Linked DNA regions of Homo sapiens. The protein of the gene in region 1 interacts with the protein of each later gene in a pairwise test. Each region holds a gene or a part of one and is shown on either strand. Other genes may lie near its edges.

Region 1 (3,500 bases):
AGTGCAAATGAGATTTATCCTTTGTCCTGGGCTCTAGGACTTAAAAAAGAATCTTTGAAATTTTATTCAGATCACAATTGTGCAGTAAAAGTGAGTTGCAGAGTAGTCAGAATCCCCAGTTTTTCAATATGTGACTTCAGAAATAATGTGGCATAAATACCCCAAGGGGTTTAGACTAGAGTATAAAAACATGGTTTTGGACAGGCATGGTGGCTCATGCCTGTAATCCTAGCACTTTGGGAGGCTGAGGTGGGCGAATCACTTGAGGTCAGGAGTTCAAGACCAGCCTGGCCAACATGGTGAAACTCTACCTCAACCAAAAATACAAAAATTATCGGCTGGGCGCGGTGGCTCATGCCTGTAATCCCAGCACTTTGGGAGGACGAGGTGGGCGGATCACAAGGTCAAGAGATCAAGACCATCCTGGCCAACATAGTGAAACCCCGTCTCTACTAAAAATACAAAAATTACCTGGGCATGGTGGCGGGCGCCTGTAGTCCCAGCTACTCGGGAGGCTGAGGCAGAAGACTCGCTTGAACCCAGGAGGTGGAGGTTGCAGTGAGCTGAGATCACGCCATTGCACTCCAGCCTGGGTGACAGAGCGAGATGCTGTCTCAAAAAAAAAAAAAAATTATCTGGGGGTGTTGGTGGGCACCTGAGGCAGGTGGATCCCTTGAATCCGGGAGGCAGAGGTTGCAGTGAGCCGAGATCGCGTCACTCACTCCAGCCTGGGCAACAAGAGTGAGACTCCATCTCAAAACAACAACAACAGCAACAACAAAATAACAACAACAACAAAAACATGGTTTAAACAACTGGCATGGGGAGATACATCCTGCTCTTCCTCACAGTGGATCCATTGGAGTGGTTGGTTAGAAACATTTAAGGCCCTAAGATAAGGATTCCTACTAAGTGGCTCTATCTATTCTTCAAGAGGGCAGCTGTGTACAGGATGAATCGGAACCACAGAGGCCTCTGTGTCATTGTCAACAACCACAGCTTTACCTCCCTGAAGGACAGACAAGGAACCCATAAAGATGCTGGTAAGAAAGTCTGGAACAGTTTATCAAATGCAAATTGGGGATCTTAAAATTATTTTTTATTTTCACATTTTCTTTCTGTGACTTTTATCTTCCATATACGTGTAAGGATGATATCATGTTTCTGAGCCTCTTATATATCCCTGGGGAGTCATCAGTCTGCTAAAGAGTGGCAAGAATCTTTGACTATTCACAATTCTGAATAGAGGAGAGCATGTACTGGGGGAGAGCCTGCTGGATTGGCACGAGACAACTTGGGCGTGAGCTCCAGCTCCACCACTAACTAGGTGTGTGATCATGGGAGAGTCAAGAGACCTTGGCTTCTTCAACTGTGAAACAGGATGAAACACTGGCCACTGCCGATTCTCAGGACTGTTGTGACAACACTGGGTATTACGTGATAGGAGATTCATTGTAAGATTTTATGGTTATGAAAATAAAAATAATCCAAAGCTTTAGGCTATTTGCTGTGCAAATTTTGTAACTATTAGCATTGTTTCAGTTTTTTTTTTCTTTGAGACAGAGTCTTGCTCTGTTGCCCAGGCTGGAGTGCAGTGGTGCAGTCCCAGCTCACTGCAACCTCTGCCTCCCAGGCTCAAGCCATTCTCGTGCCTCAGCCTCCCGAGTAGCAGGGATTACAGGCGTGAGCCACCACACCTGGCTATTTTTTGTATTTTCAGTAGAGATGGGGTTTTGCCATCTGGCCAGACTGTTCTCAAACTCCTGACCTCAAGTGATCCGCCTGCTTCGGCCTTCCAAAGTGCTGAGATTATAGGTGTGAGCCACTGTGCCCGGCCTTGTTTCAGTTCTTCATTTTGTTTTGCATCATTTTATTATTTCCCCTTTCTCTCTCTCTCTCTCTTTTTTTTTTTTTTTTGTTTTTAAACAGAGATCCTGAGTCATGTGTTCCAGTGGCTTGGGTTCACAGTGCATATACACAATAATGTGACGAAAGTGGAAATGGAGATGGTCCTGCAGAAGCAGAAGTGCAATCCAGCCCATGCCGACGGGGACTGCTTCGTGTTCTGTATTCTGACCCATGGGAGATTTGGAGCTGTCTACTCTTCGGATGAGGCCCTCATTCCCATTCGGGAGATCATGTCTCACTTCACAGCCCTGCAGTGCCCTAGACTGGCTGAAAAACCTAAACTCTTTTTCATCCAGGCCTGCCAAGGTGAAGAGATACAGCCTTCCGTATCCATCGAAGCAGATGCTCTGAACCCTGAGCAGGCACCCACTTCCCTGCAGGACAGTATTCCTGCCGAGGCTGACTTCCTACTTGGTCTGGCCACTGTCCCAGGCTATGTATCCTTTCGGCATGTGGAGGAAGGCAGCTGGTATATTCAGTCTCTGTGTAATCATCTGAAGAAATTGGTCCCAAGGTGAGAGCTCTTTTTTTTCTTCCATTTGTAATTAATTAGTTTTATTTATTTTTTATTTTACTCTCATTCAACACCTTTGGTAAGGGTGAGAGTTCTACGTTGTTCTATCCATGTACCTGTTCAACCATCTGCCTACCCTCCTGTTTATCTATTTATCCATCTATCCACCCATTCATCTATCCATCCATCTATCCACCCATTCATCTATCCATCCATCCATCTGTCCATCCATCCATCCATCCAGCAACCTTGTATTGAGTACCAGCCTGGACCTGGAAAGGAAGATACAGAGTTAAAAAAAGACAGAGTCCTTGCCCTCAGGTTGCTTACAAGCTAGAGGGATAGACAAACAAATAGACGGGGAAGGGCATCCCCAGCTGGTAAGTGCACATTGTGAAGTATAGGTGTTATGGGAACATGCAGAATGAGTACCTTGCCCAGATTTGAAGGATCAGAGGAGGCTTCTAGAAATGACAAATAGATGTTAGGTAAAGAATCAGGTGAAAGATGTGCTGGGCAGAGGGAATAGCATGAACAAAAGCATGGGGGCCTTTTATTTGTTCGTTTATTTATCACTCACTCTTACGTCCTGAGCACCTATGTGCTATCTTTGGACTTCTATTTGCCACTGCTCTGACAGCTTCCCTTCTGTCTCTGCCACATGCTGTCCTCTTGGCACCTTTAGCCATACCTAGAGGCCATGGGCTCCTCCATGAAAACGTCTCCAAAGTTGCCATCTCTGGCCCACTCATCTCTGAATTCCTGGGGGCAGAGACCCTGTTTCATTCAACTTTATATCCTCAGCCCCTGACCTGATATATTGTGAGCTTGTTAAACATTTGCTGGGCCAATGAATGACTTGCTTGAGCCTGTCTCATTAACATCCCGCTAGATATCCTACCTCTGTTTAGCCCTTGGACCTCACATTCAGCATGCATGTTTCTGAGCTCATCTTCCCAGCTCTCTCCAGGAGCTCCTACTCCTGAATTTCCATTTGAAGGAATGGCCATAGTGCTCTTCTGGGAATTCAGGATTGGAACCTTGAGTCAACTTTGCTTTTCTCTCTTCTTTACCAGCC
Region 2 (3,500 bases), on another chromosome or scaffold:
GTGATAACTGCTCACACTGAGTGAAAGACTTTTCTGCTATAGGACAGAGGTGGGACAGCACATTTCACCTGGGGGGATGGTGGGGAAGGGCATCAGAGAAGCCTTCTCTGAGAGGTGCCATGTGATGGAAAAGTTCACCAAGAAAGCCGGGGAGAAGGGCATTCCAGGGACAAGGAACGGCATGTGCAAATTCCTAGAGGCCAAAAGGAGCATGGTGGCTTTACACACGTTCTGGCATGAGCTTGAGAAGAGGGCAACTGAGAGACGGGGTTTGGTAAGGTGGGCATGGGGCACTTGGGAAGGGATCTGAATATTGTATTGGGAAGTCCGGCCTTGATTCTTTCACAGATGGGGCTCCATGGGAGTAGCATGGAGAGGAGAAACACAGTTGGGTTATGTATGAAATGATATTTCTGGTGGCTAAATGGAAGATGGAGGGGAGCAGCAGGGAAGCGGGGATGAGAATGGAGTCAGGGTGTCCAGTTAAGAGGCAATTGCAGGCCAGGCTTGGTGGCTCATGCCTGTAATCCCAGCATTTTGGGAAGCCAAGGCAGGTGGATCACCTGAGGTCAGGAGTTCAAGACCAGCCTTGCCAACACGGTAAAACCCCATCTCTACTAAAAATACAAAAAATTAGCTGGGCGTGGTGGCAAGCAACTGTAATCCCAGCTACTCGGGAGGCTGAAGCAGGAGAATCACTTAAACCTGGAGGTTGCAGTGACCTGAGACTGCGTCATTGCACTCCAGCCTGGGCTACAAGAGCAAAACTCTGTTTAAAAAAAAAAAAAAAAAAAGGCAATTGCAGACTGAGTGTGGTGGCTCGTGCCTGTAATCAGCATTTTGGGAGGCTGAGGTGGGTGGAGTGCTTGAGCTCAGGAGTTCAAGATGATAGTGTTATAGGTCAGGGAAGTGGTAATCATTTTCCCCGTCCACTTGAGTGGATGGGAAAGATGATTAAGAAATCAAAGCAGGCAGGGCGCCGTAGCTCATGCCTGTAATCCCAGCACTTTGGGAGGTCAAGGTGGGCGGATCACTTGAAGTAAGGAGTTCAAGACCATCCTGGCTAACACGGTGAAACCCCGTCTCTACTGAAAAGACAAAAAATTTAGCCGGGCGTGGTGGCGGGCGCCTTTAGTCTCAGCTACTCGGGAGGCTGAGGCAGGAGAATGGCGTGAACCCGGGAGGTGGAGCTTGCAGTGAGCTGAGATCGCACCACTGCACTCCAGTCTGGGTGACAGAGTGAGACTCCATCTCAAAAAAAAAAAAAAAGAAGTCAAAGTAGTAGAAACTGCTGATAGACTGAATGTGGGGGGTTAGGGAGATGGAGGAAGCTGAGTGACTCCCAGGTTTCTTGCATGGGGGACTGACTGGATATAAAATTAGTTGTGGGCCGGGCACGGTGGCTCATGCCTTTAATCCCAGCACTTTGGGAGGCCAAAGCGGGCAGATCACTTGAGCTCAGGAGTTCAAGACCAGCCTGGGAAACATGGTGAGACCCCTTCTGTACTAAAATTACAAAAGAAAATAGCTGGGTGTGGTGGCATGTGCCTGGGGTCCCAGCTATTCGAGAGGCTGAGGTGGGAGGATCGCTTGAGCCCAGGGGACAGAGGTTGCAGTGAGCAGTGATTGCACCACTATACTCCAGCCTGGGTGACAGAGCAAGACCCTGTCTCAAAAAAAGACAGATGTGGCACTGAGCAAACCCAGGACTCTTGTCCAGAGCTGAGAAGGGCTGCTAGCCCCAGTGACAGAGAAAGGCCCTCTGACTGGAGGACACAGCCATCTCTAGGGTCCTGGCTCTTTGTCCTTTAACAGTCCTGTGTGCCGAGGTGGCAGACCTGCATCTCCAACACGGATGACGCCCTTGGCTTTGCTTTGGGGTCCCTCTTCGTGAAGGCCACGTTTGACCGGCAAAGCAAAGAAATTGTGAGTCTACAAGATTCTTTCAACACTATGCCCTCAAAATTGACTGTTCATGTATGTGCAGACATATAGAAAAACAACGGGAGCCAGGCGCGGTGGCTCACGCCGGTAATCCCAGCACTTTGGGAGGCCAAGGCGGGTGAATCATGGGGTCAGGAGTTCGAGACCAGCCTGGCCAACATGGTGAAACCTGGTCTCTACTAAAAATACAAAAAATTAGCCGGGCGTGGTGGCGGGTGTCTGTAATCCCAGCTACTTGGGAGGCTGAGGCAGGAGAATCACTTGAACCCAGGAGGCGGAGGTTGCAGTGAGCCGAGATCGCGCCAGTGCACTCCAGCCTGGGCGACAGAGCAAAACTCTGTCTCAAAAAAAAAAAAAAAAAAAAAAGAAAAGAAAAGAAAAACAACTGGATGTAAATTGATGAACAAATGAAGTAGTGCTGCTTTGGGCAGTGGGATTATAAGAGTCCTTTAAAGTTGTCTATGTGTTTATGTTTAACTATATAACTAGAAGAAATATTTATTTATTAGGATATGATAATGGATGTGCTTAAAGTATTACCTGTAAGGATGTTTATGGTTTTTATGGCAATGTTGTTTATAATAGCAGAAAATGAGAACAGGTTAAATGTCCAACTATAGGGTAAAGGAAAAATAAATTGTGGTTAGGATGGGTTGTGAGGATCCTTAAATGGCTGATATATCTTTCAGCAAAAAAAGTAGGTTACAAAAAATATATACCCTATACAACATAATTCCATATTTTATATGCATATCAGGGGAGGGAAAAACTCTAGAAGTGGGTAATCAAAATGTTAAAAGAACTTATCTATGAATGAGTGCTTTATAACTGGTCTGTTCTTCAATTCTCAATTTTCCAAATTTTCTGTGAATGTCCTCTTTTCATAATCAGATAAAAATCATTGCACTAGGCTGGGCGTGGTGGTTCACGCTTGTAATCCCAGCACTTTGGGAGGCTGAGGCGGGTGGATCACGTGGTCAGGAGTTCAAGACCAACCTGGCCAAGATGGTGAAACCCCAGCTCTACTAAAAATACAAAAATTACCCGGGCATGATGGCGGGAGCCTGTAATCCTAGCTACTTGGGAGGCTGAGGCAGGAGAATCGCTTGAACTCGGGAGGCGGAGGTTGCAGTGAGCCGAGATTGCGCCACTGCACTCCATCCTAGGTAACACAGCCAGACTCTGTCTCAAAAAAAAAAAAAAATCATTGCACTATATTAAATTATAATATAATTTGATGAACTTATTGTCAATTAAAATGTGTACTTAATTAAGAAAAAAGCCAGCCACAATCCCAGTACCTTTACAAATGGTGTTTCCTTCTCATCGTCTCCAGGTGCTCAGCCGTATTTCTTTAGTCTAGACGTTCCCATTTCCCCTGGGTGGACAGGGATGGGGCACCAAGGGTGGATGGGTGGGGCAGGGATGCATTCAGTGCAGGGGAAGGCTGACTTTACCTCCTCCCTCCCAGGCAGAGGGGATGATCAGCGAAATCCGGACCGCATTTGAGGAGGCCCTGGGACAGCTGGTTTGGATGGATGAGAAGACCCGCCAGG
Region 3 (3,500 bases), on another chromosome or scaffold:
GAACAACATGGACTGAGAATCAGGTAGTCTAAGTTACTCTAGTTTCTCAACTATAAAGTAGTGATAGTATCTTTCTTGCCCACTTTTCAGGCCTCCTGTGTGATGACACAATTTTAAAATATAAAAGAAAACCACTTAAGGTTTACCTACTTAACTTTGTAGAAGTTTTTGTTAATTTAACAAGTGCTAACCAAAGTAAAAAATATTCAAAATGTTTTCACATTTCAAACATGCTTAAATTCCTTATGTTGACTTCCAAAGAAAGCTTAGTTCAATGAAACTAATCAATTTATTCCATAAGTGATCTATCTGGAGCCTGGCAAATAGACAGTATTTAATAAATATCCACCTTAAAAAAGTAAAAACAACCTAAGGTCATACCCGGTCACATTGTTTTAAGCGTAAAAGATCCCAAATGTGTTAAATACAATACAAAGGGAGTAATAAAGCCCCATCGGTATGGAGAGTATCTGCAGTTTTCATCCCATAATTTAAGAATTTTAAGTAACTTCTTCATAGTAACAATAAATTCACTATAGTAACTGTATTTTAGTTCTTTCTTAAATTACCATCGACTTCTTTTTCTATTAGGTCCATCCTGCTGGTAACTTCGTTCTGCACATTTTCTATGTGTGTAAGGAGATTGAGCTGCCACTGAAGATGTGAGTCTCCTGGGTCTTCGGTGCCCTTTTTATCATTATAAACAAATACTGTATTCCCTTCAGCTGGATTCTTCTCCAAAGGACCATTGGAAAATAAACACAAAGAACGGGATGAAATGCAGTCATTGAGTTAAGGATACAGGAAACACCTCATCACTGGTAACAGTTAGTGAGATCCAATCTGACTCCAGGGGTATCTTTAAAGAAGTACTGCTACATAACCAAATTCCAGCTGGTGGTTCTTAAGAGCTGATGCACCCACCACCTCCCTCCACTATGCCTCGCATGGTGCTACACAGGCAAGAAGGCTTCAATAAAATGCGCTAAATAAATGAAGTCACTAATTCTATTGTGTAATTAGAATTCCTGATTAATTTAGACTGGCCTCTTCCTCAATTAATCTCAGCTGGTGATATAAGTGGACATAAGAGTGGAAAGCAATGATGAAAAGAAATCAAGAGCGTTTCCAAAGACCAGTATAAAATCTAATTAACTACAGACTGGACTTTACTGTTATAGTACAGTAAATCAATGAAGGGAGGGAAAGGCAAAAACCTTTTACAAGTTTCAAAAGTACAAACTGCTTCACACACACACACACACACACACACACACACACAATGTGCGTTTGGATTTGCCAGAGATAACTCATTTTGCACATGGGATATTAATTAAACAAAATAACTTACCACAAACTTTATGATACGAAATACAAACGTTCCAATTCACTTAAGTACTTATTTATGGTAATTACTTGTTAAGGAATGCAGAAAAAAAACATCTAATTTTAAAGTGGCCTCATTAATTGAAAATCAGTAAAAAATAAAGGTACATTTCTAAGATAATCCCAGTGAACAGGAAATAAGTTTATAGATGTCCAATGCACATAGATCTGTCAGAATTCACCTTACTGAATAGTGGGATGCATTGACAAACATGCTAAAATTTTTTAAACAGACAATTAGAGTGCCACCTTTTATCTAACTCACATAAAGAGGAAGACAAATCATTACACCCATATGTACTTTCACATTCTTACACACTGACATTTTCGTTTTGAATACAATGTGGTTCATTTTTTAGAAGCATCGAAATGTACTTATACAATTGAAACTTTTGTTAGAGTAACAGTTTATTGAATTACTACAATTCTGAATTAGGAGATAATCAAATGTTCAAATGGCCAGTGTTTTCCTGTAGAGAAAACAAAAAAATCTCCTTACTTTAACAAGGTACTGGGGAACTTGGAAATACAACTAAAATCTGGGAATTCAGTATGCCTTATTTTATAAAATTTTCCTTTGTTCTTCTCTCATAGTTTCCAAGCAAAGAAAAATGAACTAGTTTTACCTTTTCAGGCATTCCATGTTCTTTTGCTGAGTACTGTAAACTGTTTTTACTTCTCATGTGGAATTCTTGTTCTTCTTCCAAACTACTAACATCATCATCATCTGAGCTCCCAGGGTCTGCGAGAGATTTACAGTCCTGACCAAAACTTTGTGGCTTTTGATAGCTATGCTCACTTGTTATATAAGTTCCTTCCATTTTTAGGGGCAAACGAGGTGGTTCTTTATGGTTCTGTACATATTTCTTTTCTTCTCGATTAACTGTGTCTTGAGCTATTTTTTTCTCCACCCCAGCTATTATTTGATCTTGGTCTTTTCGCTTCCCGGAACAAGCCCAGAGATGAAGGTCAGGATGATGTTTATTCCTTAAAACAAAGTTGGAAAAACAGCAGTTCAGAAAAAAAAAAAAATCTATTAACAAGCTGAATACAATGATCTATTTCAGAATTAGGTTAGGAGGACATCTAGGACTCAAGACAAAAGCAAAGGTAATCTTTAAATTAACTCCCTCCATGATTTCATCCAAAATTTGAATCTTCTCAATTAAAGAAATAATACTCAGAAAAGCAATAACAAATTTAATTGTGTTGATAGTTCACATCATCATTTGATACATGCATTTCTTTTTCTACTGATTTGTCATTGTCATTTTCATTGTAAAATTTGAAAAACTTTAATGTGAGCATATTTTAAAAACTTTTATTCAGTCAAAAAGTGATAACTCCTGATGACAAAAATCCTAAATATAAATGCACAGAAAGTAAAAATTTCCTCTCCCATGGCAAACATAAATAACTGAGGTATAATCTTCCAGACTTTTTCTGTATACCTAAAATTAGTTCTTAAATGGATAAGTATACACATCTTCTTGTGACACATCCAGGACACATACAATCTGCCTTTTTGTACGTAACATGCTAGGGGCATCTTGCCATATCATGTCATACAGATAGATTTCCCTTACTTTTACTCTAGGGCTGAAGAGTTACAAATGTACCAGTCGAGCCAACCAATTCCCTACCATTATATGTTTGTGTACCTGTGTGTGTCTTTGCACACAAGTCAGAATATTTCAGTCAGATAAATTTCTAGATATGGGATTGCTGGATAACATGCACATTTATTTTGATAGGTACTACCCAAGTGACCTCAAAAGGGATTATACTAATTACAACCCCATCAACAATCTTTGATAATGCCCATTTACTTCATCCTCACTGAACATGTAAGCATGATATTGTACAGTTAATTCTGCAGTAAGTAAAACAGGAATCCAATCATCAGAGCTGAAGTGAAAGGGCATTCGGGAGATATAAACCTTTCAAAAGGCTCAATAATGTTTGCATATTAATAATTTCCAAATTAGATACATACTGAGTCAAATTAGTTCTCTTCCAATAATACTCAAGTATTGTTTCTGAAATTATAAATTTTATCATTTGAATCCCTAGTAGTTTAATATTCAGAAAATACTAAAACACTCAATCAGTAA

The links. Proteins that work in one complex are often made in the same cells at the same time.
Region 2: the proteins of CASP10 (region 1) and ECE2 interact in a two-hybrid assay, tested with the Homo sapiens proteins (one large-scale study listed by BioGRID).
Region 3: the proteins of CASP10 (region 1) and PHF20L1 interact in a two-hybrid assay, tested with the Homo sapiens proteins (one large-scale study listed by BioGRID and IntAct).

Annotation. Positions count from the first base shown.
Region 1 is NC_000002.12:201,207,141-201,210,640, forward strand, and holds part of CASP10 (caspase-10 isoform 1 preproprotein), read left to right. Parts: intron 1-934; coding exon 935-1,043; intron 1,044-1,149; exon of another isoform or gene 1,150-1,327; intron 1,328-1,929; coding exon 1,930-2,422; intron 2,423-3,500. UniProt on the Homo sapiens protein: Involved in the activation cascade of caspases responsible for apoptosis execution. Recruited to both Fas- and TNFR-1 receptors in a FADD dependent manner. May participate in the granzyme B apoptotic pathways.
Region 2 is NC_000003.12:184,286,022-184,289,521, forward strand, and holds part of ECE2 (endothelin-converting enzyme 2), read left to right. Parts: intron 1-1,815; coding exon 1,816-1,926; intron 1,927-3,415; coding exon 3,416-3,500. Other genes in the region: EEF1AKMT4-ECE2 readthrough transcript protein, read left to right, coding at 1,816-1,926, 3,416-3,500. UniProt on the Homo sapiens protein: Converts big endothelin-1 to endothelin-1. Also involved in the processing of various neuroendocrine peptides, including neurotensin, angiotensin I, substance P, proenkephalin-derived peptides, and prodynorphin-derived peptides.
Region 3 is NC_000008.11:132,841,388-132,844,887, reverse strand, and holds part of PHF20L1 (PHD finger protein 20-like protein 1), read right to left. Parts: intron 2,374-3,500; coding exon 2,013-2,373; intron 736-2,012; coding exon of another isoform or gene 733-735; coding exon 570-732; intron 1-569.